Linked DNA regions of Homo sapiens: all the other regions are linked to region 7. The links come from fine-mapping of genetic effects on gene expression. A gene starts in region 7. Each other region holds a variant in brackets. All regions are shown on one strand. Distances are between the middles of the regions.

The links. PIP is the estimated chance that this variant, and not a neighbour inherited with it, causes the effect.
Region 1: its variant is fine-mapped to the expression of ARHGAP15 in whole blood (GTEx, PIP above 0.99). The same link has a PIP of 0.9 or more in lymphoblastoid cells.
Region 2: its variant is fine-mapped to the expression of ARHGAP15 in whole blood (INTERVAL, PIP above 0.99).
Region 3: its variant is fine-mapped to the expression of ARHGAP15 in whole blood (INTERVAL, PIP above 0.99).
Region 4: its variant is fine-mapped to the expression of ARHGAP15 in whole blood (INTERVAL, PIP 0.97).
Region 5: its variant is fine-mapped to the expression of ARHGAP15 in whole blood (INTERVAL, PIP 0.94).
Region 6: its variant is fine-mapped to the expression of ARHGAP15 in aorta (GTEx, PIP 0.98).

Annotation. Positions count from the first base shown.
Region 1 is chr2:143,568,536-143,573,127 of GRCh38, reverse strand. All of the region lies in intron 11 of ARHGAP15 (Rho GTPase activating protein 15), which reads right to left. Among named protein-coding and RNA genes, the nearest start is that of ARHGAP15-AS1, 210 kb to the left of the region's middle. The variant G/A (reference allele first, on the strand shown) is at 2,163.
Region 2 is chr2:143,402,412-143,407,003 of GRCh38, reverse strand. All of the region lies in intron 6 of ARHGAP15 (Rho GTPase activating protein 15), which reads right to left. Among named protein-coding and RNA genes, the nearest start is that of ARHGAP15, 280 kb to the right of the region's middle. The variant T/C (reference allele first, on the strand shown) is at 2,468.
Region 3 is chr2:143,434,670-143,439,261 of GRCh38, reverse strand. ARHGAP15 (Rho GTPase activating protein 15) reads right to left here. Exons shown (of 14, transcript NM_018460.4): 7 at 3,563-3,661; 8 at 2,220-2,349. Among named protein-coding and RNA genes, the nearest start is that of ARHGAP15, 310 kb to the right of the region's middle. The variant G/A (reference allele first, on the strand shown) is at 2,266.
Region 4 is chr2:143,009,901-143,014,492 of GRCh38, reverse strand. The region is part of intron 10 of KYNU (kynureninase); the gene reads right to left. Among named protein-coding and RNA genes, the nearest start is that of ARHGAP15, 120 kb to the left of the region's middle. The variant G/A (reference allele first, on the strand shown) is at 2,672.
Region 5 is chr2:143,213,073-143,217,664 of GRCh38, reverse strand. It overlaps ARHGAP15 (Rho GTPase activating protein 15), which reads right to left. Exons shown (of 14, transcript NM_018460.4): 4 at 1,220-1,281. Among named protein-coding and RNA genes, the nearest start is that of ARHGAP15, 86 kb to the right of the region's middle. The variant A/T (reference allele first, on the strand shown) is at 2,680.
Region 6 is chr2:143,440,008-143,444,599 of GRCh38, reverse strand. The region is part of intron 8 of ARHGAP15 (Rho GTPase activating protein 15); the gene reads right to left. Among named protein-coding and RNA genes, the nearest start is that of ARHGAP15, 310 kb to the right of the region's middle. The variant C/T (reference allele first, on the strand shown) is at 2,126.
Region 7 is chr2:143,127,322-143,131,913 of GRCh38, reverse strand. It overlaps ARHGAP15 (Rho GTPase activating protein 15), which reads right to left and starts at 2,495. Exons shown (of 14, transcript NM_018460.4): 1 at 2,448-2,495.

The DNA of each region.
Region 1 (4,592 bases), 440 kb before region 7:
AATACCAGTTACAGACTTTTGAGTCATGAAGCTGCACTGTAGTTAGCATTTCCATTTCTCATCCCAGTAAAATGAAAAGTACCTGAATATTGTTTCTTCTATAAACACACAAGATGGAATAAAGAAACAAATATAAAGGTATCTAGAGGTATTTTTTTAATTTATGAATTTCCATTTTTGTAATCTAGAGATTTGAATTTATCTAGCTAGTATCTTTTACCACTTTTAAAGTGCTTTGCATGGTTCTCAATATGGCTCTTTGTGTTTTGGTTGTATGTTTTATCTTTTAAAATTTTTATTTAGGAGGGATTCCTACATAACTAGATTAGCAGTGAGAGTAGTGGTCTCAGAAATCACGCGTGGATTTAGGATTCAGGATGGCTATATTAATTCAGAAGTAAAAATACACATATGACAGAGACAAGAGTTTCATGAGTCAGAAAAAGAAAATTCCAGGTAAGCCTGGCTTTATAGCTGTCTAAGTGGTGTGATTTGAGGTGAGTCAACACTACTGTTGAAAATACCTTATGTAGAGACTGGAAATCCTCACTATTTACCTGATTATATGACGTCTCTTACCTTATATTCCCAGGAGTAGCAGGAAGCATGACCTACTGTGCTCAGATGAACAAATGATCACCTTAGAAAGTCTGAGTGGACTCTTGAGAGATGGGGATGATAACGCTGAGAACAGGGCAAGGGAAAGGGAGAGGGAGAGAGGAATGGGGAAGATGGCTGTGTGCATAGAGTATGACTATGGAGAAAGTGGGCTCAGTAAGACTCAGTGTCTTACAGGTGTCAGGGGTGAGGACAGGGGTGAAATGAAGGCTCCAAAGGCACACACAGGTGGGTGATGATTTTAAGCCAGGTAGATCTTTGTGAGGTAGAAGTGTAATGCTGAGTATTTTGGCACCCAGAAATAAGAGGATCTGGCAGGCACAGCTTTGCTGAAAGCCTACAATGCAGATGGCACATGATGGGCATAGGGAGGAATCCAGAGGAAACTGAAAAATAGCTCAGTCTCCAGCATCTAACAGTCATGAAAGGGAGAGAAGTGGCATATGAAATAGACTAAAACCAGTACTGAAACACAGGGACAACATGCTATGGGAACACAGTGGAAGAAGCAGCTAATTCCTGTTGAGATTTATGCCAAGAATCATGAGATCTGTGTCAAGGAGGTGAGCTCATCCATCAGCAAAACCACTGATGATGTGCATCTTGCTCTGAAAGACTGTTCTGCTGGGACCTATCAAATAATAATACGCATACATACTCCAGCCCCCAGGACTGATGGGATATTGAATTCCAACATCCTAAGCAGATAATGGTGAGTGAACCCCTTATGGCTGCCAGACATGAAAGTAATAGACTAACAAGAAGAGGGAGTGGGGTACTTGCTCAGGAAAAATGTAGCCAGAGAGTGAGGAGACCACAAAAAGACAAACAATCTGGAGAAGTAGAAAGGATGAGGAGATGGTGAAACAGCAAGAAATGCAGATGCCACCAATACCTGCTGCTATTTAAAGGGAATTATTCCATGGGCTTTTTAGAATCCCATGGATGTTAGGAGACTGTGGCTGGGATTTCATGTCACCTTCTCTCTAAATTACCAGGAAACACATAATGCCTTCTCCAAATCTCAGCTGAATGAAGAAATGCAACTCTTAGCAACTCATTCAAATTCATAGAGACTTTAGTTCATCTATAAAGTGGGTAGCTTTCTTACAAAGATTTAGTGTAATAGCATTTCAAGTGCTTTAGAGCAGTGGTCCCCAGCCATTTTGGCACCAGGGACCAGTTTCGTGGAAGACAATTTTTTCACAGATTGTAAGGGGAAGAGTATGGTTTCAGGATGATTCAAGCACATTACATTTATTGTACACCTTATTTCTATTATTGTTACATGCTCACCATAATGTAGAATCAATGGGAACCTCAAGCTTTTTTTCCTGCAAATAAACAGTCCCATTTGGGGGTTATGGGAGACAGTGACAGATCATTAGGCATTAGATTCTCATAAGGAGCATGCAACCTAGATCCCTCCCATGTGCAGTTTGCAATAGGGTTTGTACTCCTATGAGAAATTAATGCCACTGCTAATCTGACAAGAGGTGGAGCTCAGGGGGTAATGCTCTCTCACCTGCCACTCACCTCCTACT[G/A]TGCTGCCAGGTTCCTAACAAGCCATGGACTGGTACTGGCCCCTGGCTGGGGGGCTGGAAACCCCTGCTTTAGAGAACTCAAGTACTGACATTCTCTTGGTTCTGTTGGTATGTTCTGTAAATTCTATTCTGTTAAAAAAAAGGATTGACCTGTTTGAAACAAGACATATCTTCTCTTTTCTTCAATATTTGTTTTCAAAAGAAATAATGTGTAAATTGCAGGAAATTGGGAAGGTATTTTGAAAAACGAAGACAATAAAAATCACCAATACCTAATGCTAACATTTTATGTATTTCTTGCTATTGTTTTTGGAACTGAGTTCAATAGTACACAGTGAAAAATTGTTCACTTTGAGACTGATCTCCAGCATGTGCCAAATTCCTCACCTTCTTTAATAAAAAAATGGTCCAACTCTGGATGGAATCAATCAATAAATTAAAATGTGTAGTGCTTCTATCAGCTGCAAAATATTCTTCTGGGTAAAGTAGGAGAGACAGGTTTAAAAGATATGAACTCTGCCCTTAAGAAATGTTTAGTGTGTTGAGTAGATAAGATATAAGCATGTGATTTTCACTAGTGATATATAACATTATACACAATATGAGGTTATTGTAAATTGAGTAGTTGAAGTTGTAAACATAGGATTTAAAATGAGGAGTGATTCTTGTGGTTTGGGGGGAGGTTCCAGGGAAAATTTGAGTGACATTTAAATAATCCAAGAAGAACTTGAGATAAGCCCTTTCTTTATAAAATATTCTTTCCTTTAAAAAATGTTATACTTCATTATATTACAATAGATTACTTCATTAGGATGGTTGTAAGGGACACATTTAGATATAACTTCCATATGGTGTAGCAATTTCCATTGTAACAGGTTCATTATCTCATGGGATTGACTCATCTTAAAAGAAAATATATTCTTGCTTTAAAGATAATAAAATTGACCTGGGGAGGTTAAATGACTTGGGCAAGACAACACAATTATTAAGAGGTGACATGAAAATTGACCTAGGCTTTCTAACTCCTGGGCCACTCTTCTCTCTACACTTTATTGCTTAAAGGAAATGGTTTAAAAGGCATATGGAAAATAAGACAAATAGAATATGAAGTATTCCCTCATACAAATCAGCCACCACTATTATAGCTTGACTGTGCTACTGTAACAACCTTCTAATTTGTCCCCTGTATGTACTCTTTCCCCCTACAATTCATTCTTCTCTTAGCCAGTGGAATAATTTAAAAACAAATAAATAAATAGGTTCAGCTAATTTTCTGCTTACTGCTGCCCTACACCCCACTGACATTCCACTGAGCTTAGAATAAAAGCCAAGCTTCTAATCTTGATTGGCAAGGCCTACCTGGCCTGGCTTTGCCCATCCCTCTGGCCTTCTGTGTGTCCTGATCTCACAGAAGCCCTCATTCCCCAGAACCAGTTTCCCTGCTTTGCACTCCCCCCACATCTCTCCATGCCTCCCTGCTTCCTATCAGGTCAAGTGTCTATTCAAATGTCTCCTCCTCAAAGAGACCTTCTCAGGTCATCTAATCAAGGGCCACCTCACCCGTCTCCATCTGTTCTTCTCTATTACATCACGATCTTGATTATAATTTCTGATATCATCTGAAATTATCTTGTGTATTTATTATGTATCTCTTGACACCAAAATGGATGATCCACCAGAGCCTGATTTTCCAGAAGAGATCCTGGTTCATAAAAGGTTTTCAAGAAATATTTTTGAATGAATAAATCCCCATTTGAAGTCTTCATTTAGGCCAATATTTTAGGCTTTTTTTTTGTTTAAATTATTATACTTTAAGTTCTAGGGTACATGTGCACAACGTGCAGGCTTGTTACATAAGTATACATGTGCCATGCTGGCTCACTGCACCCATCAACCTGTCATTTACATTAGGTATTTCTCCCAGTGCTATCCCTCCCCCTGCCCCCCATCCTATGACAGGCCCTGGTGTGTGATGTTCCCTACCCTGTGACCAAGTGTTCTCATTGTTCAATTCCCACCTATGAGTGAGAACATGTGGTGTTTCATTTTCTGTCCTTGTGATAGTTTGCTCAGAATGATAGTTTCCAGTTTCATCCATGTCCCTGCAAAGGACATGAATTCATCCTTTTTTATGGCTGCATAGTATTCCATGGTGTATATGTGCCACATTTTCTTAATCCAGTCTACTAATGATGGACATCTGGCTTGGTTCCAAGTCTTTGCTATTGTGAATAGTGCTGCAATAAACATATGTGTGCATGTGTCTTTATAGTAACATGATTTATAATTCTTTGGGTATATATCCAGTAATGGGATCACTGGGTCAAATGGTATTTCTAGTTCTAGATCCTTGAGGAATCGCCACACTGTCTTCCACAATGGCTGAACTAGTTTACACTACCACCAACAGTGTAAAAACGTTCCTATTTC
Region 2 (4,592 bases), 280 kb before region 7:
GTAGTTATGTATGCTTAACAGAATACGGACAGTAAATCCACCACTTCCAGACCTGGCCCTTTGATGTTCTCCTGTACAACTTTCATCCCCTTTCCTTTTCCTTTAGCTGAATGGAGAGGACTCTCAGAAACTAATAGAAGATGGAACCATAAGATGGGAGAAACCTGAGTCCCTAAATGACCATGGTGTTCATTGCCTTACAGAGAACACACTCAATGAACTATGATATGATCAAGAAATAAACTTTGTGCTAAGACACTGAGAATATGAAATTCATGTATTATGATGCCTAGTGCTACCATAGAAGTAGTCTATCTTGGTAAAATGCATTTTATGTGAGAAAATAAAATAATGCCTGATTAAATAAAGTATATAAAGCAAAAATGGTCAGAAATACAAGGATAAATTTGAACATATATTGACAAATAAATGGAAAAAGTGACAAACTTAAATTGACAGATTGACAAAGTAGGAACATGGGGATTTAAAGAACACAATGATGTAAACACAATTGTCTACACATATCATAAAGAAGAATATTTTAAAATATTAACTGTAGCTTAAGACACAAAGACAGTATCAATGATCCACCAAAGCCACACCTCTTAACTATGATGTCCTACAATTAGAAATTAAAAGCAAATAGTATAGCTGAAAAGAATCCATTCTCTTGGAAGTCATAGCATATAAACAAACACTCTTCTAAAGAATATTTTGGTAAAAAAGACTTTAAAACTAGAATTATAAACTCTTAAAATTGAACAACATTAGCTTACAAAATATGGGCATGTGGTGAAAATTCTACGATCAAAATACAAACTAGTAAAAAATTATTAACTGAGGTACATCCATTTATGAAAGCCAATAGATATGAGAAAACAACAAAAGACATGTAAGATGCTCATCATTGGTACAATTGAAAAAGAAAATTGAAATAAAATGAAACAGAAAAATATTCAAAGATCTGACAGATGAAAACTCCCCTGAAATAGAGAAAAACCTGAATTTACAAGTAGATAAGATGTAAGTGTTCTAGGAAAAAATGCCACAGAATTAAAATCCTAAAATATGATCTTGCAGCATTACCAGACTTTATGGACAAAGAAAAAAGTCCTGTGGACCTCAAGGCAGAAATATGAAGTCACTTATTAGAGCAAAACATGCTGACTTCAGACTTCTTTATGTCAATATTCTTATGCAAGAAACGATGGAGAAAGTCTAGGGTCCTGGTAGAAATGAAGCATTACCCAAGCACTTTGTATGTAGTCAAGTGTATGTTCACACACAAAGGCACCCAAAAAGATGGCCTTGGACAATGTGAGTCTCGTAATACATTTGATTCCAACCAATCAATAATCAAAACAGTTAAAAACATCTTCAAGTGAGAAAGTTGTTATATAAAATGAGGGACACTCCTTAAGCTAAAACTTACTGAGAATTAGAGTGACAGAAGAAAATATATAGTCAACTTGACAAAAAATATAACTAATAAATCTATATGTAGTTTATGACAATGTGAAAAGGGGAGCACAAATTTTTTATGTTTTATAAAGGGAGTAAATTTTACTGAAGTTGATGAAACAAGTACTAAAATGTACAAGGATAACCGTAAGAATAATGAATTCTCATAAGAGGGGAAATCAAAAAAATAAAAAACACAAAATGATAAGCAAAATTTGATTAAGGCCACGATACAAAACAAATAAAGCAAAAGCAAAAGCAGAAAAAAAAAACACCTGGCTTATAAGCATTTATTTATTTGTTTTGCTATAGGAAGGTATACATTATAACATCAAACTTACTTAATATACTTCATAAAATGCTTTCTCCTATCACACATTAAATTGATATAGAATTTGATAAAAAGATTTATTTGCATTACAAATTATTTAGCAAGGGTTAACTCTGTCATTGTAAAGTTCACCTTGATTTTTCACCTATTATTTTCATACTTTGGAATCACTGCAAAGAGAGAAAAATCTAACCTACAGATTGTTTTCATGTAGAAGTTGTAAATTTTGATAATATGGGTTTCATCTCAGGCAGGCTTTGAGAAACATCATACTGCGTATGCCAATATCATCTGTCTCTGTTTTAATGTGTAAGTTCTCACCACTACCTAAGTAATAATAATTTTCATTAATTTTAAGAGCATGATCACGAGTCCCGTTATTTACTTTTTCTTATTTTATAAACTCAATGCAATTCACCAATTTTCCTTAATGCTGTTGCCTGATGAGGCACTCATCTTCCTTTGGTTGCTCTATGCCAGAGCTTCTCAGAACCATCCCTAGAGCTTGTGTCAGGCACCTGGTAGGAATTCATAAGTGTTTGCTGCTGAATGACTAAATCAAACATGACTTCATAGTTTACATCTTATTTAAGCTGAACAAAGACTGTTTAAATCAAATATTAATCAACTAATACTAACCTAAAGGAAACCCACACATGCAGTATCAGATACTTA[T/C]TTTAAATTAGAAGTACCCATGCTTTAGGTGATAAACATGCTCCTGAAAAAATATAAATTTTTGTATTAGATTAAATGATACATACAACATTTTCAGGCTATAATTTGATCCCATCTGTTTCTGTCAATTTATTCATTTATATTCTATACATATCTTAGGGTCTCTATCAAATTTTACTTCTTCAATACAAATTTCTTCCATAGAATGTTTTGCCTTCCGGACTTTCATAATTCTATCATTGCCACTATCATTGTCTTTACCAATTCTTGTTCTTGAACTCTATCATTCTTGTTTTCTCCATCTCCTTTGCCTGCAGTATATGATCACTTATGTTTCCCTTGTCCTTCAAGGTTCAGAATCATCAGTATATTCTAACCCCTACTGATGCCAAAATTTGCCACCATGTTGTCTTTGGACTCCCTTCCTTTTAACAACTGAATATTTAATAACTTTAATATCATAGCTACATCATGTTTCTCAACAACTCCAAAGCCAGTAAATATTAACATTATGGGGATTTTCCATTTAAACTAGAGAAATTGCAATCTACTCTCACTTGAATATGTCTTGAGTAATGTGGCTCCCCTTCCTTTTCTTTAAAAAAAAAAAATTACATCCTGGTACCAAGTGTGCAGCTCCCGAGAGTCTTGCATGGATAGTTGTCTCTGGTGAAAATTTAAGTGCTGTTTATGTTAGCTTCATATACTCATAATAGAAACTCAACAATCAAAGGGATTGAGTGATTTTATAGAACGATTATTTTACAAAATTTAAATAATTGTATTTAAAATTACACACACACAGAAAAATACACGTATACACATGCACTCTTCCCTTGACTGCTGAAACTCCAGTCTTTTTCTGGTCTGTTTTCATATCTCACGCATATATTTCTTCCATTGCTGGGCATGCCTTCTCCATTATTATGTATTATGCAATTTTTAAAAACAGTTTAAGAAATTGGTTGTGTTTTTGTTTTGGGTTGTATTTTTTTTTCTAATTTGATCCCTAGTAATACATATGTATTTTTGAAAATAGTAACTATTATGTGCCTCTTTCTAACCATCACAATACTTAATCTATCTCTGAGTTAGTGAAAAATAAGTTAAATTGAGTTGATGGAGTTTGAAAATTAGAAGAAATATATTAAGTCCCATGAAAGTGAGGCATGTGAACTGGAAGTGGTCCACAGTAAATAAATCCTCAGAGCTTTAAGGAAGACAGGCATTGGCAAGTGGAGTGTTGAAAGAAAATAATATACCCAGGTCTCCAAATTAATACAAGACTAGAAATCAAACGGTCTTATTGGTTTCAAGGCTAAAAAGAAAAAAAATAAAAAATAATTACAATTTTGGTGGAAAAATATGGTTTGAAAATGATATAAACTAGATTTACTTTAGAATATATAATATTTCAGCCAACTGAATTTAAAATTAACTTATGGATTGATATTCCTTTGTTTCCACATAGCTATACTTGTATAGCTTAGCATTTTACTAATTACTTTTAAAGGTTTTACTTGAATCCTTTTAAATCTTTGAGAAACTAGGTTTTAATATTTGAAATTAACAAAACCAGATGACTTAAGAATATATTCTTCTATAAGAAAAATATAGGTTGTCCTCTAGAAATGTCCTTAGCCAGGTAGACAGCTAACAGGTGAAAAAAAATTTTCATCGAAGTCCCAAAGTGACCTTCAATTAAGAAAAACAATCGACTGATGTTTCTCTACTCTATTAGATGCCAGGAATCTCTGTGCAGTGTTTCTGGGGTTTTTCCTTCAATCAGCCCAACATGAGGCTCTTTCTCAAGCTGTGATTTTGTAAATCTTTTTTTAGTACCTATTGGGACATCCTGTGAATTGTGGTCTCTTCATATCTGCATCATGGGGAAACGCACACAGAGCAGAAAGGATTGGACAGTTTCACATCTCAAAATAGTCCCCACCCACCCCCCCTTCCAATTTAGAAAATAAAATTAGCTGTGAGTTTTTATCCTGGGGAACCACATATTTTGGAAACATCAGAGTTTTCAAGTTCCCAAGCAGGTTAATTCTTTTGTTTTCTCTGTCACTAATAAGCCATTTCCTTTTGCGAACTCAGAAGAAGCTAAATCTTCCCTAGT
Region 3 (4,592 bases), 310 kb before region 7:
TAGTAGAGACAGGGTTTCACCATGTTGGCCAGGATGGTCTTGAACTCCTGACCTCAGGTGATCCACCCGCCTTGGCCTCCCAAAGTGCTGGGATTACAGGCATGAGCCACTACTCCTGGCCTCCCTTGTTTTTAAGTAGGATTGAGTTTAAGCTCAAAGTAGAAAAATAATTGTCTTTTCCAATTAAAAATAGATTCTAAAGAGAAGTAGTGAGTGTTCTATCTAAGATTTTTTTTTCAGCAGCATCTTAATACTTTTAAAGTGACTGTTACTTAATAGAGAATTCATTATCCTCAATGTTTCTCAAATACATTTTTGCAAACCTTTATTTTCTCCATAGCTCAGGTTTTAGAAACATCTTAAGGTCTCTGAACCAGCAATTATATCTAAGATTCCAGACCTACTAGTCATTGCATCACATATTCTTTTATATGTACTACAGAATGTCTATATGATTAACACTAAATATATACTCCCAACTGAATCCCAATTCTGAAATCTTACCTTATGTCTCAAACCATATGAAGTAAAAGAAGACAATGATCAGGCATGAAAGGAAAACATTCTTTAAATGAAATACCTCTAAACTGTACCATTATGGAAAAGTCTTTTGAAATGGCATTAACTCTCCACAAATAAACCATGCATTTTCTAGACATTAACACTGATAATCTTAAACTCCAACTTAGCACAACTGGCTAAGTAAATGTGTCTAGCAGTTGTTGAAAATTATGGCATGGGATTTTGCATAAAGACTTAATTTCAAAAGGGTGCTTCTACTCTTAAATTCTCATGCAATTTCTAGATTTGTAGACTTCAGTAATTCAACTTTGGCAAATATGTTATCACATATAAATAGCTTCTCTCTTCCCTATCATATGTGTATGAGTCTTTGTGTGCATGTATGTGTATATACATATATTTCTTAATGCACACATATATGTACACGTACAAATAATCATCTAGCATACATACATACGTGTGTATGTGTATGTATATATGTATATATGTACACATATATTCCATTAGCAGCTCTTCTCAACTTACTGAGTTCTCTTTAAATTCTAAAGTTTAGGATGTCAGTATACTGATATTTTGTCAGAGGGAAATAGCAGGAAAAAAATGATGATTTGCAAGATTGGGGTCAGCCAGGTAGAAGACTCCCCCAAAATACTATAATTTTTAAGACTTTGGGAAATAGGTTTTCTCTGGTTCCAAAGATGTCTACCTTTTCTGAGACAGAGTCTTGCTTTGTTGCCAACCAGGCTGGAATGCTGTGGTATGATTTCAGCTCACTGCAACCTCTGACTCTCTGGTTCAAGCAATTCTCCTGCCTCAACCTCCTGAGTAGCTGGGATTACAGGCACGTGCCACCATGCCCAGCTTATTTTTGTAGTTTTAGTAGAGATGGAGTTTGGCCATGTTGACCAGGATGATCTCGAGCTCCTGACCTCGTGATCCACCCACCTCAGCCTCCCAAAGTGCTGGGATTACAGGCGTGAGCTACCTCGCCCAGCCAGATGTCTACCTTTTCTTTCAGGAGGTTGAGACTCAAACCAACTCAGTGAGATATGTGTTGCATATTTTAATAACCCCTTTTCATTGAGGAAGAAGCAGTCTGGGGAATGGTTAAGAAAGATACTCAAGATCACTGTGTAAGTAGTGAGACCATTCTTTTTACTCTAAATTTAATTCTTAGAATATTAGAACTAGGTGTGACCTTGGAGAACATCTAATTCACATCCCATATTTTCTATCAGCCTCTCTGGAAAGCACGTTTCTAAGTGTTTCTGGTGGTCTGAAGGTGTGGAAAGTGGCATAGCCTGTTGACTTAAGTTAGACCACACTGGTGGTCACTCATACCCTTTAATGTATGCAAATAAAATAGTCAGGATACCAGGGTTGGAGATGCTTGACATTTCCCACTCTCAAAATCAATCACTGATCTGAACACCATGGCTATTACTCAGAGATTCAGAGGTTTGCTGTAAGCAGAGACCATGACCTTGGAACAATTATTTTCTCAAAAGGCATTACCAACAATGATGTGAGCAAAGTGCCCAGACTGCCCTCCAGTGCACAAATCCCTGGCCAGGAAATGGCTACGAATCTTCCATGAGTATGATGAGTTTGGCTTAAATCTCATTTCAATGCATTTATATTTCATAAGCACTGCATTTAGACAAACTTAAAATGAGCAAGTCAAAGAAAATACTCACTTAAAGATTTTCTGTGCTCTGGTTTCTGTTCTTTTATATCACTGTC[G/A]TAGTGACTTAGCAATTCAGTGCTAGAGGATCTTTGGATTTTGAATAATTCCAGGTTTCTTGATGGACAACTTGAATCCTTTGGCTGGAAACAGCAAATAATTAGACTGAATAATTTTACTAGAAAGAAAGGATTCACCATAGAATTTTGTGTTCAATTTTGCTGTTTATGGGGAAATTTGAAGTAAGGTAATTATTTGAGGATAGGTCCTCTATGCTAAGCTCAATACTCTAATAATAGTTTATATATGTATATGATGGTACTTACTAAATGCTAAGCACTATTCATGCATTAGTTCAATTAATCATTACAACAATTCTATAGAGTAGGTGGTATTATTATTATCCTTATTTTCCTCATTAAGAAAATGAGGCCAAAATAGGCAAGTAATTTGCCTAAGGCCACACAGGTAACAAATGATAGAACTAGAATTCAAACTCTAGCAGTCTGGTTCCAGAGTCCATCCTCAATGGCAACAAACTGTGTGTATGTATGTATGTGCACTCACACACATTCACACACACACCCCTTTAAGGGGAATATACTAATAACAGGAAAAAGTAAATTTGTTATTTTACTTTTTAAAGTGTTAATCCCAAAATGGTATAATGAAAGCTTGCAATTAAGTATCAAGAAAATCACACAGAAAATCTTTTACTATTGTGTTGTATTCCGTATTAAGAATATTTCTTCCCAAAATTTTGCAAATATTAGTGTCATAAAATTAAATGTTTGTTCTAGAGACTCAGCATGGAATGAGTGGTTTTAAATAAGTTCATTCTTAGAAAACATACTCTGAATGTATGTTTTAGGATAATTTCATGAAGTTCTAGATATGTAATTTTCATAAGAAGAACAATCTAGCTTAGCTGGAAGAATAATAAAAATCAGTACAAAGGGTTATTATTTATTTATTGGTATTATAACAGTGAGTCTTAAATATGTTATTTATTTACAGGAGTATGTAGTATGGACTGCATAAACTGAAAATGAAAAAAAAATCAGTAGTTATTAAGTGCTTGTGTGCTTTTTACAGCCTCCAGTAAATGAATGTCTATGTTATTTCAGAAAAAAAGAAAGAATGCACTATATTTTTGAAAGAGAGAAATTAAACGACAGTTCTACAAATCCTGTCTGCTGAAAAGGTTTTTAGTAGATTCTATTTAAACTAAAAGAACTTAATCCCTCTCAGTCCATAGGATCTATTTAAATGAGTGTGTGTGTTATATGCCTGAGCAATAAGATTTAAATGACTACATTTTAATTAATAAAGGTAACAGCCAAAACAAATACATACCAATCTGTCAATTGCATTTTTGATAGCGTGGAACCAATCCAATATGATGAAGTCAATATCTGACTGTAGAAGGAACTCATTTCCTGATACTGTTGTGATCTGCAAAAAAAAAAAAAAGAAAAAGAAATAGACAGGTAAAGAAACTATGTAAGATAGATCTCTTACATGTAAAAATCCTTTTTTAAAAAACACAGTTTAATAAAATGAAATATTTTCTTGTATTCCAGTAATTGTCTTTCTGGGAACTGGGAGCATTTTGAACCGCTCTCTATAAACTGTTTTTCACGTCATAACAAATACATTATTGTTTTAATAATAGAACGATTAAGTCAGAGTAGGGCTAGAGCTGAATTACTCCAACTTAAGGAGAAACAAGCCAGGAAGTTCAGAGAACTGCAGACAGTACACACTTAAGTCAGAACCCGCAGAAAAATGCACCCGGGTGTGTCAGAATTCATTCTGCACGTTTGCCTCTTTCCTGTCTGTCTTTTTCAAATCTAATAGTATCTCTATATTTGATTTCCTTTTATGGAGAGCTCTAAAACAGTTTATTTACCAAAAACACTAATTGCAGACTTCCAAAAGTTCATTGAAATGAATAACATTTGACTATTTCTACTTTCTTATCAGAGATCTATAGGAAAGTAATAAAAAAACCAATTTCCCCACAAAAGGAGTATATTAAAATAAAAGTTCATTTACATATTTGAACCTCTCTGGGAGAGTATTTATCAAATGAACATTCAGGTTCCTGACTCTCAGACTGCTAAGTAGTTGGCAATATTTAGCGTGTAACTGTCCATTTTTCATTACAGTGAATCTTTTTCTCCCCAGACTTGTGAGAAAAGGATACGACCCTACAGAAACAGAGCAATACTCTTAGTTTCACACATAACGGGCAACTTAGAGAAAAAATTGATTAGAGTGGGTGTGGACATGCTTTTTGTATTTGGCCATCAATCTGAACTGTGAAGATTTTCCCTTTGTATTATTGACTTTTCCTTGCAACTGGAAGATGAACATTTCCCAA
Region 4 (4,592 bases), 120 kb after region 7:
CAAATCATGTGTTACATATAGCCCAGCATAAAATTTATGCCAGAAACAGCACATATAAAAGAAAACTGAAGAAACAATGGATCTAACCCATTAATTAAACCAAATTTGCTCCTGCTGGGGAAGGAGAAGCCTCAGAAAAGGATGAGATTCATACCTGATTCAGGTTCCCAATACTTAGCCAGGTTGTACTCCATACCACTAGATAAAATCCAAGGGATGAGGCTGGGAGGGTTGAGAGGTCAGTGGGAACTCCACATATGTTTGAGAAGATCTGATGATGGAAATGGCCTGAGCCATGTTCCCTCAGCCCTAAGGGGCAGTCCAAAGGTTTGTAAAGAATTTCTTCATGCCCCAAATTGGTGCCATAATCTTTGTGTAGGAATGTTAGGAGAATGGACCTGTGTGTGATAGCACCTCCATTTAAAACCCAGGTTCATACTATATCCTCTAAAGACGCAAGAGACTATTTTGAAATTCCTGCTCCCCCAGGGATAGGTATAGAAGTGACTGACAGACCCCAAGTCTCCAATGGAGCTTTGGGATGGTTGGGATAAAAGGCATGAGGCCATTTCAGTTTCATACACATCTTGGAGAATGTAATGGTAATGAGAGCAGTTGACCAAAAGGGTACAAGCACATCTCAATGTACTCCAGGAGATGGCTGTGGGTCCGAAGCCTCTCCCTTACCTATGCCTGAGTGTTCTGTATATCATCTACCTTTGCAATGTCATTCTGTGGAGGAAAGGAAAAGAATGCTGAACCAACAGAACTTAAACTCCAAATTTACTGAGAAAAACAACAAAAGTCACTAAGCTTACCTAGAAGTTACAAGACCAAATTTCCTTCAAGAAACAGATGTGGGTTCAGGATAGAATTAAATTCAGATAGACAAAAACAAAGAAAATAAAATTATTTGCTCATTTAAATTCAAGACCTGATAACATTCATATATGCAACTTTTCTTTAAAACTATCAAATTTCTAGAAATTAAAAATAGAGCTACCATAAGACCTAGCAATTCCTTCTCTGGACATATACCCAAAGGAAATGAAATCAGCACCTTGTAAAGATATCTGCACTCCTTTGTTCACTGCAGCATATTCAAAAAATTGTGAAGATTTGGGATCAACCTAAGTGTCCATCAACAGATGAGTGGAAAAGAAAATATGATGGACACACACACACACACACACAGAGAAAGAGACAGAGAAACAGAGAGAGACAGGGAGAGAGAGAGAGAAATATTATTTAGCCCTAAAAAATAATAAGGTCTTGCCATTTACCACAACATGGATGAGCCTGGAGTACCTTATGCTAAGTAAAATAAGCCAGAGCCAGGTGTGGTGGTACACACTTGTAGTCCCAGCTACGTGGGAGGCTGAGGTGGGAGGATCACTTGAGCCTGGGAGTTTAAGGCTGCAGTGTGCTGTGATAGCACCTATGAATAGCCATCACACTCCAGCCTGGACAACATAGTGAGACTTTGTCTCTAAAAAATTAATAAGAAAAAAAGAAAGAAAAAAGCCAGACATGGAAAAATTGCATGATCTCACTTATGTATGAAATCTAAAAAAAATTCAAATATACAGAGATAGAGAACAAAAGAGTGGTTACCAAAGACAGGTGTGAGGGAAGAAAATGCAGACAGGTAGGTCAGAGGACACAAAGTAGCAGATATGCAGGATGAACAAGTCCAGAACTCCAATGTACAGCATGAGGACTATGGGTAGTACAATTGTATTATATTTGGGATTCAAGCTAAGTGAGTAGATTTTCCCTGTTCTTGCTAGAAAAAAAATGGGTAACTGCATGAAGGTGGATATCTTAATCTGCTTCACTACAGCGACCTTTTACTGCTTCTATGTATCCCATACATCATGTTATAGACCTTAAATATACACAGTAAAAAATAAAACAAAAATATGAAAAATATTATGGGAAATGACACATGGGCCTTTGTACTCCATAGTCCCTTTTTCTTTCTTTCTTTTTTTTTTTTTTTGTTTTTTGGAGATGGAGTCATGCTATGTCATCCAGGCTGGAGTGCAGTGGCATGATCTTGGCTCACTGCAACCTCCATTTCCTGGGTTCAAGCCATTCTCCTGCCTCAGCCTCCCGAGTAGCTGGGATTACAGGCATGCACCACTAGGCCCAGCTAACTTTTTGTATTTTTAGTAGAGATGGAGCTATGTCATACTGGCCAGGCTGCTCTCGAACTCCTGACCTCAGGTGATCCACCCGCCTCGGCCTCCCAAAGTGCTGGGATTACAGGCGTGAGTCATCGTGCCTGGTCCAGAGCCCCTTCTGAGATAGCTGCTTTCTTCTGTTCTCCTTTGTCGCAGGAAACATTTTGTATTTTGGAGAACCTCCAACTTGGGGACACCCTCCGCTTTGGGGACAACCAGTGTATTTTCTTTTTTTTTTTTTTTATTATACTTTAAGTTTTAGGGTATATGTGCACATTGTGCAGGTTAGTTACATATGTATACATGTGCCATGCTGGTGCGCTGCACCCACTAACTCGTCATCTAGCATTAGGTATATCTCCCAGTGCTATCCCTCCCCACTCCCCCCACCCCACCACAGTCCCCAGAGTGTGATATTCCCCTTCCTGTGTCCATGTGATCTCATTGTTCAATTCCCACCTATGAGTGAGAATATGCGGTGTTTG[G/A]TTTTTTGTTCTTGTGATAGTTTACTGAGAATGATGATTTCCAATTTCATCCATGTCCCTACAAAGGACATGAACTCATCATTTTTTATGGCTGCATAGTATTCCATGGTGTATATGTGCCACATTTTCTTAATCCAGTCTATCATTGTTGGACATTTGGGTTGGTTCCAAGTCTTTGCTATTGTGAATAATGCCGCAATAAACATACGTGTGCATGTGTCTTTATAGCAGCATGATTTATAGTCATTTGGGTATATACCCAGTAATGGGATGGCTGGGTCAAATGGTATTTCTAGTTCTAGATCCCTGAGGAATCGCCACACTGACTTCCACAATGGATGAACTAGTTTACAGTCCCACCAACAGTGTAAAAGTGTTCCTGTTTCTCCACATCCTCTCCAGCACCTGTTGTTTCCTGACTTTTTAATGATCGCCATTCTAACTGGTGTGAGATGGTATCTCATTGTGGTTTTGATTTGCATTTCTCTGATGGCCAGTGATGATGAGCATTTTTTCATGTGTTTTTTGGCTGCATAAATGTCTTCTTTTGAGAAGTGTCTGTTCATGTCCTTCACCCACTTTTTGATGGGGTTGTTTGTTTTTTTCTTGTAAATTTGTTTGAGTTCATTGTAGATTCTGGATGTTAGCCCTTTGTCAGATGAGTAGGTTGCAAAAATTGTCTCCCATTTTGTAGGTTGCCTGTTCACTCTGATGGTAGTTTCTTTGGCTGTGCAGAAGCTCTTTAGTTTAATTAGATCCCATTTGTCAATTTTGGCTTTGGTTGCCATTGCTTTTGGTGTTTTGCACATGAAGTCCTTGCCCATGCCTATGTCCTGAATGGCCATGCCTAGGTTTTCTTCTAGGGTTTTTATGGTTTTAGGTCTAACGTTTAAATCTTTAATCCATCTTGAATTGATTTTTGTATAAGGTGTAAGGAAGGGATCCAGTTTCAGCTTCCTACATATGGCTAGCCAGTTTTCCCAGCACCATTTATTAAATAGGGAATCCTTTCCCCATTGCTTGTTTTTCTCAGGTTTGTCAAAGATCAGATAGTTGTAGGTATGCGGCATTATTTATGAGGGCTCTGTTCTGTTCCATTGATCTATATCTCTGTTTTGGTACCAGTACCATGCTGTTTTGGTTACTGTAGGCTTGTAGTATAGTTTGAAGTCAGGTAGTGTGATGCCTCCAGCTTTGTTCTTTTGGCTTAGGATTGACTTGGTGATGCAGGCTCTTTTTTGGTTCCATATGAACTTTAAAGTAGTTTTTTCCAATTCTGTGAAGAAAGTCATTAGTAGCTTGATGGGGATGGCATTGAATCTGTAAATTACCTTGGGCAGTATGGCCATTTTCACGATATTGATTCTTCCTACCCATGAGCATGGAATGTTCTTCCATTTGTTTGTATCCTCTTTTATTTCCTTGAGCAGTGGTTTGTAGTTCTCCTTGAAGAGGTCCTTCACATCCCTTGTAAGTTGGATTCCTAGGTATTTTATTCTCTTTGAAGCAATTGTGAATGGGAGTTCACTCATGATTTGGCTCTCTGTTTGTCTGTTGTTGGTGTATAAGAATGCTTGTGATTTTTGTACATTGATTTTGTATCCTGAGACTTTGCTGAAGTTGCTTATCAGCTTAAGGAGATTTTGGGCTGAGACAATGGGGTTTTCTAGATATAGAATCATGTCATCTGCAAACAGGGACAATTTGACTTCCTCTTTTCCTAATTGGGTACCCTTTATTTCCTTCTCTTGCCTAACTGCCCTGGCCAGAACTTCCAACACTAAGTTGAATAGGAGTGGTGAGAGAGGGCATCCCTGTCTTGTGCCAGTTTTCAAAGGGAATGCTTCCAGTTTTTGCCCATTCAGTATGATATTGGCTGTGGGTTTGTCATAGATAGCTCTTATTATTTTGAAATACATCC
Region 5 (4,592 bases), 86 kb before region 7:
GGGCTGGGCTACTCAAAGACTTCCTCCTGTTGTTCCTTCAGAACCCAATTCTCTAAGCCCAATTCACCACTGGGGAAGGGACTAGCCACATCTCTTAAAGCAACCTTGCATTTGATCTTGTCTCCTGTGCATCTCTCTCCTGAACTCTTCAAGGGAAGGTGGCTGCAGGGCCACTCCAGAAAAACAGTCCAGGCAAAGATTTAAGGCCTTGTTCACTATCCCAGAATAAGACACAATATGGAGAGAAAATAGAGCTTGTTATTTACAACTGAAATAGCTATTTTAAGTAGTGAAATTGTGGATGATTTCTCCACCCCCCTCCAAATTTTACTTTGTTTAAATAAATATATTAATTCATTATAACCATCAAACAAAAGCAGACTTTATTCTCTGGTGTTGACCCAGAGTGTCATTCTAGTAATGAATTGTATTATACAACTAACATGTGTCCCATTGTGTAGCTAATTAGTACATTTATCCTATTAATTTTAATTGTTAGTAATACATTTAAGAGTAAATGCCTTGTCTCTCAACTTGAGCATTTTCTACAAATTTGGTAACTTGCATATCACCCAGCACAAAGCTAAATATGTAACAGAACCAATACGAGAAATAGCAAAAATTCTAAAATGGAGGTGATTATTTCTAAACATACGGTATATACCACACAATTATCATCTTTCTTTACCGTCCTATCAACCTTACTTTTTTTCTTCAAGATTTTTGTTGTTATTGTTCTCTGAAGGTTCTTATTCCCTTTTCAAATTTCTCTCACCTCTGAATATGATGTTACTTTTATTTTATCAATTTCTATTTTGAGCTACAAAAGTGGTTCAAATCTTCCATCCTTCAAGAAATTATTCTCACAAGGTATTGTATAGAGACTTTTCTGTATTGCAGATGAATGCATTCATTCTCTAATCTTTCAATCACAGAAATCACAATCCATTGTCTTATTTATTTTCAGTGTTTTATGAGTTCAAGTCCAAGGAGGACAAAAAGCATCTCATTTATGTGTTCTGTTCGACAATATAGAATGTAGTGCCTTTCTTTAAAAACTGTAGTTCCATTAAAAATAATGTTGATCATAGCAGTAGCAGAGGAGACTGTTCTAGTCTGGTACCATAGGGACTTGCATCCCAAACAATAACAGTGGCACAAGTTTAGCATATGAAGAACCAGCATAGTTATATAAAAGTGAATTAAAGAATTTTATTACCTTAGTTTCTTTCCTCCATCTGCAATTTTAGCTTTTTGCAGATAACCTTCTTTTTCAACCATCTGCAAGAAGAATGCATATGTTAAAACCGTGACAAACTACTATGCATTGTTGATTTGAATAAACCTATGCTTTTCAAGAGTCATTGCAGTGACGGAAGTTTTCAGTCATAGAACTTTATTAATAATGCATATATAGCTTATGGGAAGTGCCTGCAAAATCATAGTCATTACAAGCTGTTAAATATCTAAAAGACAGACTATGAAGAGGAATGTGAATGATTTGTTAGATAGTGATACACCTTTATTGACTTTTCTTTCTGGGCGTTGAAGTCACTTGTTTAAAAAATTGATTGCAAATGGTAAAAGAAAGACAAATTGAATGCCTTCCTTTATTTTACCAAGTATCCTTAGAAAAGTTCTTCTTTTCAAGCCTCCCCATGTACCTTCCGAAGCCGGGATAAAGGAAGACTTCAATGGGACCAGGTAACTGAGCTAGTTGAATCATGGAAGGGCATTTAAAATAGCAACATTTCATATATTTTGGTCAATTGCCAAGATACCCTGTAGTAGCAGTATCTCATTATCTTCTTCCATGATGTAGGATTGCTTCCTTTTCCTATTTGCATATACTGTATTGGCTTTCATTTCTAATAGAGCTGCAAGTTTCTTAAAGGAAATTCAACAAGTCATTATAACTCCGCAGAAGTGTTTGCGGAGGTTTTGGCAAAATAAATGCACAATGCAAATTGTGATGGGTTGACTCCCTGCAAAGTCTGTACTAGGTGTTTTAATTTCTTAGCATCCTATTTCTACCCTCCTGTGTCTGCCTCACATGCCCCATCCCAAGTCGTTAGCCTTCATCTTTCACTCTTAGTGAATTGCCCACACCCTTCTCCCTGAGCTGCCTAGTATCAGAGGACCACACTCCCTCAGTGCCATCCCATGTTATCCCCCTAGCTGAAATAGTCCACCATGACCATGTCTTCATCTCACAAAAGTCTTAAGTATATTTAATCTACTTCAAAATTAAATTAGTAAAACCCAGTGAGGTGGCAAGTGTCTATAATCACAGCTGTGTGGGAGGTTGGGGTGGGAGAATCTGTTGGTCCTAGGAGTTTGACACCAGCCTGGGCAGAATAGCAAGAACCCCATCTCAAAAAATAAGAAGAAAACCAAATTTTAATGTGCACGTCTTTTTATTAGAGGGTCTTTCCATGATTTCTCTGCCATCTCTTTTAGGTGCACCATCCTGAATCTCCATTTTCAGTTTGCCATTGTCACTGTGACAGCACATATCAGATCATGTTGTAAATGTCATTTTATTTATCTGTGCCTGCAGGCAAATAATGTGCTATGAGTCCATCAAAGGCAAAAAACTGTACCTTTCACACCTGGATTCCTAGCTTCTGGAATATTTTGGTAGTGCCAATAGTCAAAATAATAAAACTGTTTGAACAA[A/T]TAAGTAAATGAATGGCTATTTAAATGTTTATTTAAATATTTATAGTAAACTGGGCAAGCCAAGAAATTTATCTTCAATACTACAAGTGAAAGGAAGAGATATTTAGAGGTAAAGGAGTTGTTCCAAATAACTAAAATCTCACTGGTTAAATGTCTGCTCTGATATAGGTGAGAGTTTTTCTGCCTTGTTTTATTCCTAATACATAGCACGGGACTTAGTTTTAAAATGCATTTGATGAATACATTTTTGACTAAATAAATAATGATAGAGATAATAATAATGATGACTTATGAAAATGATAGCAAAGTGTTTTTTACTTATCTCCATATCCAGAAAGTTTCTTTTACTTCACCATGTTCTCCACAACTCTACAGCATCTAAGGAAGATTTCTTGGATAATTTTGAGAACCATGGTATTCACTGGTGCCTTTTTGTTTTGTATTTGGATACATCTATTCATTTGCTTTTTCCACATTTTATTCTATGTATACTGTCCCTTTTTCTTGGTGCCAGGAATTTTATTTTTCTACCTCGTAAAACCCATATAATAAATTTAGTGTTTAACTCTGTGTATCACTGGTATCCACAAATGTTTGGAAGAAAGATGTTTTCAATAGCAATTACCACCACAAAGGAGGTTCCTTTCTTTAGGAATGTATACTGAGAAATTTTGTTGTGTAACCGTAGAAAAAATTTATTGTTTTATTTAAGTTTTCTTCTGATTAACAGTTACCCAAAACCTGGATTTATCTACCAAAAAAACTACAAAAACCTATCAACCCATCATAAAAATTGATGCATGCGTTCTCTGCTAAAAATATAGCCCCAATTGTTTTTTCCAAAAATTCACAAAAGATCCCTCGGTAGACATTTGCTACCCACAAAGATAAATTATTGATGAAAATTTTTCTAAAAGAGATAGGAAATGTGAAAGGAAAAAGCTAATACTCTTATAGGGAGAAATCAACATAAACAGGTTTAAGGTGTACATCATAGAATTCTCTTTCTTTGAATACATAAGTAACATTTCCCCAGACACTGCAGGACTTTTCCCAGAATACTTGAGATTGATGCCAAGGGCTGGATTTCTCAAGTTAAGACTCAATAAATGTGACATCATTGTCATCAGTGGCTGAGCCAGTTCCATGGTCTTGGATCAATGCAATAGACTTTTCAGGAATGATCATACAGAGGTCCCAGGAAAAATGAGGACGGACTGAATAGCAAGTTAGTTATCTTCTCTTATATCATTTTCCAAAGTCAGGCTGCCTTCCAGGTCATTAGAAGAAGCTAATAACGCTTCTGCTATGTTCTATTACCTACTACACTTGCTACCACCATGCATATTTGTTAAATGTTTACATGCAGATTTCTACACGTAGTATATCTATGTCCTACCACTGTGCACACATTCTCACTTCTGAGATCAGGTGTTTATTTTCCTTCATCTTCTTTATTTTATTTTATTTTTGAGACGGAGTTTTGCTTTTGTTGCGTGGGCTGGAGTGCAATGGCGCAATCTCGGCTCACCGCAATCTCTGCTTCCTGGGTTAAAGTGATTCTCCTGCCTCAGCCTCCCGAGTAGCTGGGATTACAGGCATGTGCCACCATGACCAGCTAATTTTGTATTTTTAATAGAGACAGTGTTTCTCCATGTTGGTCAGGCTGGTCTTGAACTCTCGACCTCAGGTGATCCACCCACCTCGGCCTCCCAAAGTGCTGGGATTACAGGCATGAGCCACCGCACCCGGCCCTTTCATTGTCTTTTTAATACTTGATGTACACTTATTCATTCTTTTCAACACATTTTTAATTAATAACACTTCTTTCCTCTAAATGCCAGCTTCTCTGCTTACAACAGAACTGGAAAGATTAATAGGACAATTGTAATCCTCTTGAGGCTTAAACTCCT
Region 6 (4,592 bases), 310 kb before region 7:
GGAAAGTAGCGTAAGTTACCATACTTCAGAAACAAAAAGGAATTGACCAAATAAATCCTGTATACAGAAAGAGGTGATCATTTGCATTCAAAATAATGTTTTGCTCTGCACATGGATTCACTGTACAAACACCTTAAATGCTTAAATGTCAGCTTTAGCAAAGATTCTTTAAATCTGCTGTGACAACAATGAATGATGATTATATGCCTAACTTTATAAGAAAACATTAATATACGCCCATTTTAAAGTCATGGAATAAACAAAAGGACACTTTCTGAGGATACCAAAGATCTTTTTTTTTCTTTTGTTTACAATCACAGTAGTGTATTAATGCCAATAAAATATTGCTTGAGAGTTAGAGCAAAGAGCCCTCTGGATTTGCCCTATTATTGAAAGCAAGATGCCATTTGACCTAATGAAATCAGAAATTGATTAAATGCAGTTCATCTAAGGGGAAATATGCTCATGGTGTTATTGCCAGGGTCAGAAGGAAGATAGGGTGATCTAGTGCTTGAGCACTGAGAGGGTTAGGTGGACTTTCAGAGTAGCTGATGCTATGAGATACACGACAATGGACATCCACAGGTCAGAGGGCGAGATCAGCCCCTTAGATGGGAAAGAAGAGATTAATCAGGACATTCTTTGCTCAGCTCATAATGAAGTCCTCTTATCAAATGATTCATTGAAAACTGAATGTTTTGAAGAAAGTGCAATCTACGGGTCCCAGAAAAAGTAGGTACTGCTGCTTGGGAACATATGTCAGAACAATGGCTAGAGTCACACAGGGCCATAGTGAAGCCTGGGACCTTCATGCATAATACTATTCTGATAAATTAATGTGGATGCTTGACTATCAAATGTGTCTAATTTTTACTCTTTTCCTCTCATGATGTTTACATCTTGCAGCTTTAACAACATAAATGTCATTTATAATTTTTCAATTTTTTTCTTTACCAACTATTTTGAAATAAGTAACTCTCAACCTGTGAAAAACAACTGAAAAGACAAGTGACACTCAACTATTCTTTAGATATTGTCTGTCTTATAAGTATAGTAATATGAAGTGATTTGTTTCCACATTTTAGCTCAATAGTTTATTTTTCTCAAGAGGGTTTTGAATAAAACTGGTACCAGAGTGGCGCTAGTTATTTTGGGGAAAAAAAAAAAAGGGTGAGTGACCCTCTCACCCAAATCAGAAAACTTTGTCCTCTTGATAATATAATAACCCATGATATTCTACAAAAATGTCACGACTTTTTTGTTTTTCCAGGAAAGAGCTCTTCCATTTCTTCAGAACTAGATATGGTTTATCTGTGCAATTTTAATACTGTTTTCATTTCCTTGGCAGATGGTTTGTTCATCTTATTATTTTCATACATTGGCAGGATTAGACTGTTTTACACAAAATTCTTAATAAGAAAAAACTTTAAAATATGTATTTATATGAGCCTCCAGAACAGGCTTCACAGTATGTGTTTTAACAATTGATAATTACATATTTATCCAAGAAACTCGTGTGACTTTTTAATTTTGGATAATAATAAATATCTTAAAAGTTTTCTTAATTACATAGTTCCCAGAAAGGTCTCAATGGTCACAGGAAAAAAATATATTGGTTTTGGAGGAAAATAGGAAAACAATGAGTTATCAATGTTTCATGTAAAGAGGTCTTAATGTAACTTATATTCAGAAAATTTGATCTTTCTTTGAAAGGTTCAGGTCATAATCAGAAAATATGTATATTCTTTTATTGAATTAGGCACATGGACATACCTACTTTTGTGTGGGTATGTGCGTTTACTTCAATTTTTAACTGGAGAACTTTTCAAACATACAAAAAAAAATGAAACAATAGGATCATGATCACTTGCCTATGCACCACCTAGATTCATCAAATGTTTATATTTGGGACAATTCCAGACTTAATCTGTCATTACACATACTTTTTACAAAGAACATCTGTCTTGCTAAGGACTCACTTCCCATTAATGCTACAAAAGCTGCCTACCCAGTCCTCAATTCTCTCCTTTTTCTATTATTTCTTCCGGCTCGGAGGCTTTAAATTCCCTCCCTGCCACTACTGGGGACTTTCAGGGCTCACCAGAATCCTAGCAAAAGCAAAAGC[C/T]ATTCTGAGTCTCCTAATCGCTTTGGTGGAGACGGTACAGAAGTGGGGATCTAGACCGGAAACTAGATCGAAAGCAATGCTACTGGGAAGTCTTAGCTCTCAGGGCCAGAGGTGCAGCAAATTCAGAATGAGTTGTTCCCTAGAAACAACATTGTAAGTGACTGCAGAAAGTTCAAGTGTGCTTTTGTGGCTTGGTACATGGTTTCCTTGTGAAAACATACCAGGTCTAAGCAACCAATTTACAATTGGATTTTGAGAACATAGCCTACTTATAGTTGTAGAAGACCAGTATTATAATTATTTAGATTAGTACAAAAAATTAATGTTTTCTCTATCAAACTTGTTTTCATCACTTGGCATGGTCATGATACTTTGCAGGCAAATTTTTTAAACAAAGACAAGTTAAAAGTCCGTAGCATTTTAATTTTTATTGTGTAACTCTCTCAATTCAAGTTTTTTCTTTCTGTTGTCTTATTGCACACATCATTAAGGGGATATGGAACTGGGAAATGCACATTTAAATACATATACCCTAATTATTAGAAACATATTACATATACCCTTATTGCACATGTCATTAAGAGAACGTAGATTTGGGAAATCCACATATGCATTTAGGATTTCACCCAGAACACATTTGTTTTTTATGATAACTTAATCAAGAGACAGCTAAAGGAAAACCCATTTCCTTTTAGCTCTCTTACCTTTTGACTTTAGTCTTCTAACTCATGTTCATTTCAGGGTGCTTATTTCCAATACTAAAGTGTCAGTTTTATTTTCAAGTTATCCAAGGTCTCCACACTCATGGATTTTACAGTTTAGCAATTGATAGGTATGAGATATATTACTACTAAAGCATAACCTACATACAAAAGTTATTTTTTAAAAATTGAAAGCACAGATGAGTGAAATCAAGAATTTTAGTTGTATACCTTTAGTTGTATTTCTTCATAAAAAAGAATTAATGTGTGTATGAATGAATAAACTAGAACTTTGTGTAAAGGAATAGTGAGATGGCTAATGCTGAATCCTTCCCATCAACTTGAATTTCTGAATGGCATGCTTTTCTGGGTTTAGGAGAATCAAGAGTGTTTCTTGGCTCCTTTCTACTGTTTCCTGGTGTGCTGCTCCCAAGAATGCCCTACCTGCCCCTTTTACATGGGAGTTGCCAGGGGAAAGACCAGCTGCTCGTACTTAGATTTTTTGCAGCTATGACTCCCATATCCAATTCTGGTACCCTTTTTCTACCTTTCATACACTCAGGGAGTAGGATGGCAAGCTTATATGCCCTGCTCCAGTCTTTCATCAACCACCACCAGGCTCAAGCCCTGTCTCAGTGCTATCTGCTTGGGGACATGGAGGATAATAATAAGAGCTCCTACTTACTGAGTGCCTGCTATGAGCTAAGTATTTACATGTCTAATTTCAAATTCTCACACGATCCTTTAAGGACAGTATTAGACCCATTTTTATAGATGTGGAAAGTAAAGCTCAGAAAAGTTAAGAAACCTCGCCAAGGTTATCTGATGCAAGATTTATTATATTTGGGCCTTCCCCCTCTTTGCTGTCAGTGGAAGACAATTCTCTTTCCTCAGAGAAATATGTTCACATCTTCTTTGATTGACTCTCCACTTTCCATAACAGCCCTCCCTGGAGAGCTGCTCTCCTACTCTCATCCCAGGCTGGTGTCCTGAGTTTCCCACAGTGATTTGGCCCTTGCATTAAATTTTCTGGCTTCTTGTCTGTTAGACTCAACTGATATCTTAAAATATCTGATTCGTTCTTAATAGTGTTGGCAGGTTAGAATCATATTTTTTAAAAGAAAAGTATATGTAAACATAACTTTCTGAATTCACTCATTGAGAGAACATATTTTTCCCATGTTATATAGACAAACTGGACAACGAAATCACCACCTGTTAGCTGCTAATGATGTTCACATGCCTTTTAAAAAAGTAATTCTGGCTTTATCTGTCTACAATCTTGGCGGCAAAACTCATGGGAACATCAAGGGCACAGGAAGCCAAAGGCAGAAAACCGACAATAAAGTTTGTGCTTAGACTACTAATAAGGAAGAGGATACTGTTGAGTCTCTGATTCTATATAATTATTTAATCTCCAAAGGGTGACATAAAAGCGAATGCAAGTTTTAAGAAACCTAAGTTTGGGTGTTCAAATCTAGGACTGAGATCAGAGGGGTTTCACACAGGGTATTTCCTACTTGAAAAAATATATTTTACAAAGCATCAAATATAAAACATGTCAATCACTATTTCAAATGCATGGTCTAATTTGATATTGTGTGGGTGGGTCAATCATTATGCCTTTCAAATGAAAATGAATACATACATATTGAATGAACTTAATTCAAAGTAATAGATGGATATTAACTGTGTCCTACATTGCAAAAAACATACTGGCCCTAAAAAAAAAGGCTTACAACTATACATACTCACCAAGATACAGA
Region 7 (4,592 bases):
ACTTCCAGAAATTCTGTGTTTAAATGCCACAGGCAGGACCAATGGTTAACAAAACACTCTCCCTCTAAAGTCTTCCCCCAACCATTTACCATGGCATCAGTCTCCTCACTTGAGATCCAACATTTAGCTAATCCTTTGGGCCCTGTCTGCTGAGGAAACATATTAAAATTCCACTGGGGGGAGAAAGGGAGGCCTGGCTAGGAAGTCAAAGCTCTGTAGCCTTCTCCTATAAGCGTGGATTATTTTTATTAGATTCCCTAAGTGCTGGAAAATGGGATGAGTACATTTTAAAAGTTCAGTTGAATGGAAGGAGCCAGTGAATGGAAGGGTCTATCTTTCTAGGTACCAAGTCTATGGGACTCTAAATTAGGAGCAGAGCAGGCCGCTCCAGAAGAGAATAATAAAAAGGAGCAACAGGAGGAATATCAAGGAAAGAGTTTCTCCTTTCTGAATCTTACTGAATGCTGGCCCTAAGTGGAAAAGCACGACATTCTTTGAGCAAATTAGCTTTAATATGACTTTCCAAATAAAATCTTCCGTATTATTTTCATTTCATCAAAACTTGTTTCTGACTCATCCACTTAAAACATATAAAGTAATAGAATTCTATAGTAACTTATTTGCAATTAACTGTCTTAAAATTTGGTTTGTACCTTACTGCTCTTTACAAACAATTCTGAAGGTATTTTAATTTACCTATCATCTTTACTCATTGATCTTTCTAAATTCATATCAAGCTCTCTTCAATTCATTCTTAATTTTACACATATTCCATAAAATATGTGTATTTTAATTTAACAGTTTCTGCAAGAAACACTCATTTTTACAGTGAATTTCTTTTTTAAAAGCATTAAACAATTTAAAAAATTTTCATGGACTTTTCCTCAATGCCAGATGTTTATCTGCATATTCATTCTTGCTAAGGTGTAAGTATTGCATGTGTTTATTCATTTGATATTCTTTTATAATAAAATGAAAGAAAGTAATAACATATCAACCAAAATTATCAGAATTATACAGCTTCTATAGATGCAGAGGTTCAGAACCACGATATTGAAGACAGATTTAAATAATGCTTTCCATTGTGAGGAAATGCAACAAATTGAAAATCTAATCACAATATCAAAGCAAATATATATTACCAGGGTCTTCTTACATGCTAACAATAAAAAATGTATTGAACACCAAGTCCTAATCTCTATTTTTCTGTGATCATTTTAATAGTCAACAAGTAGCTAGCTTCAGTATTGACAATTGAAGAGGTCTTAAAATGGAGTGTACTACTATGCCTAATAATTTCCTACTAAATTGACCATGTCAAAAAACATTTATGTGTGTCTTTCAATAGAAGACAATAAAAGAAAAGAAAATTGTTGCCACTTATCAACCCTGTAACCATTTTTTAATAACACAAAAAATAGGTGTTGTGGGGGCCATCACTTCTCCCATCCAGCAGCACAATAAAAATAATATTAGGGAAGAATGGATCATATCTTGGGCTGTTATTAAAATTCTTTCAAAAATCTACAGTCAGATTTATTTTAGGTATTTGTCTCTGAGATTAGCAATATTTTGATGTTTTCTGCACATATGTTACAGCACACAAAGACATTCTGTAAAAGCAAGAAGTCAATATAAAAGAAAATTACATGTCAGTTTAGGACTAACAAATCCTTTTCATTTCTAAGGTTTATTATTTTGGAATATTTCAAAGAAGGAAAATTATATAATTACATAAATAACAAAAGTATACCTCTAATTTGCCTCTCCTCTCAGAGTAACCTTCAATGAAATCAGCTGTGACTTCTTTTTTAAATATAAAAGTTTGCTTATGAATTAGAAACTTACACTCATTTCACCCTATATCTTAAATGAAATTTAGAAAAAAAATTTCAAGTGTCATGATAGACAGTATTCCTTTACATTTTAAAAGCTCCTTGCTTTTTAATTAGCTACATAGTAACCTTTTTAAGGGTTTTTAGTGCTAACATTAATACAATGCTTTAAAGTGAGTATCTTTCACACTGAAATTCAAGCTATTTCTCATTGTTATACCCTTTTCTCTTTCCTTATCTGGATGTTGAACAATACATATTTTTATAAAACAGTTGGTTAAAGGTGCAAAGTCTCACATTATTTCTAGTAGTTATTTTTAAATGCACTTCAAACTAAAACTTTATAACTTATTCTGTCTTTAACATTTTAGTACAAAATCTTAGCAAATCATCTTATTATTATAACATTTTAGTAAAAGACATTGGAATTTGACAGCTGCAAATATGAAAAGAACATTCTTTTCTACATCAAAGGAAACCAGCCAATGTTTTAATCACAGGTAAAAGCGTCATATTTTGTAGAAATGTTTATATGTTCACACCAAAATGTAGGAAACTCTGCCGAACATGTTCAAGTTTAAATTTCATGTACAATATAAAGTTAAAACTTACCTTTTCTCGGCAATGACCTGTTATTGAAACTGCCATCAACTCCTAACTGTTAATGACTCTTTCAACAAAAACGGAAAACAGTAAAGTCACATGTCGTAAGAGTAGGCCTGTGTTGGATGCTGCTTAATTTCAGTACTGGGGGAAGAAAAAGGCGGGGGGTGGGGTGAGCACAAAACTTTTAAATAAAACCACTTCCTGGGTAGAGACAGTTAACCACACACATCACATCATTACTCAATTTGAAGAAATTGCCTTGTATAGTCAACAATATTGTTATTTTTCAATGTTATTATCAATTGTCAAACAAGACACATGTATAGAGATTTTATCAATTTTAACTTAAGGGAGGAAAATGTGTGATTAAAAATTCATCAGTGGGAGGAGCAGACTGCTAAGCACTGAAGAAACTTCCTCTTTCTCTGCCTTCTAGCAAGGGCTGAAAAATGAAGCGTCTACTCTGCTGGCTACGCTTGAGATGCTCCCATGCTATCAGGACACTCTGCATATTGACTTTGGAAGCAAGGAAGCCACCTCCAATTCACAGAGCTGGTGCCTCTGCCTCATTCATGAAAGGACCCACCAAAACCTGATCCAGTTAACAGGTTCATCAGGCCTTGGGAGGGTTGCATTAGAACTTCAGAAAACACAGCCCAGAGCCACGCCGCCATCTGAGCATCTGGGGAAAAGGCAGGTGTTCATCATGCTCGTCGAACACACCCTGTGGCATTTGCTGTGACTGTGGCTCTCATACGGATGTGTCCACTCTGGCAATTTCCTAAGCAGTTCTGAAACCTGCTGAAGAGCTTTTGCTCTAGCTGAGTGATTCTTTGTGTGGTCTGACTTAAAAAGAAAAAAAATATATATTATAATAAAGGATCCAAACAATATCATTTTGGCATGCTGCTGAATGCCCTCTTGTGTCAAACTTCAACAAACCCAAGACATATTTGTAAGGGGTCTCAGAAATAACTCTAGGATGTGCATCTTTATTGAGCCATGGAGTTCAAGAATAAGCTCCTGGATTTTCAGGCTTGGCTGGTTTTGTGAGATTTGCAGCTTAATCATAAAAGGAAGAGAGGAAAAGCTTTCCTTCCAAATATATGAGAGAGTTAAATCACAATCTCTTGTCATACAAACCAATTAGACTAGAAATCTGTGTAATAGAGCTCAGTGGTATAGAATGTTTGGCATACTAAAAGTCAATCTTTAAAAATAGATTTGGTGGATATGGCCCAAGTTAGGGATGGCATGTCCCTATCAGTTAACTGAATTTCTCTGGGATCTTTTTCTAAAAATCACATTTCAGATTGACCCTAGAATTCACTGTCAGTTCTCATTTCAGGAAGGACCTTTTTAAGTGTTTAGAGTCCTGAAGATTTGTACTGAATGCTTCTCCTTAACACCGAAGAGAAAATGGAAAGTTCATAATATTAAAAGTGAGGAAAGCAGAATTCCGGGCTTAATTCTGACACTGCTATTCACTTAACCTTGGCCAAGTTACTTAAGTTCTCTGAAATTTAGTTCATTTATCCATGTAATGAAACATCCGCATAAAAAAATCCATCTTGGGGAACACGATAAGTAAATAGATGTATATATTTTGTATATCATAAGGAATTGTAGATATATAAATTAGCATGAGCTGGGAAATGTTGATAACTCCTAAGAAGCATCAGAGAACTTCAGTACATTCTGCTTGATTTAAGCCTTTGTAAATCTGAGTTAGACTCAGAAGTCTAGGACAAGGAAAATAAATTAGGCCTTTCCTTGTTTTTGTTTGCTTGTTTTTACGGAGTCTCGCTCTGTTGCCAGACTGGAGTGCAGTGGCGCGATCTCAGCTCACTGCAAACTCTGCCTCCCGGGTTCAAGGGATTCTCCTGCCTCAGCTTCCCGAATTGCTGAGATTACAGGCATGCACCACCATGCCCAGCTAATTTATGTATTTTTAGTAGAGACGAGGTTTCACCATGTTGGCCAGGATGGTCTCTATCTCTTGACCTCATGAGCCGCCCGCCTCGGCCTCCCAAAGTGCTGGGATTACAGGCGTGAGCCACCACTCCCGGCCATGCCTTTCCTTTTAAATAGATACTAACATCAGGCATCTGACTAGGAAAAATATAAAATAACAATATACCCTTATGGTAA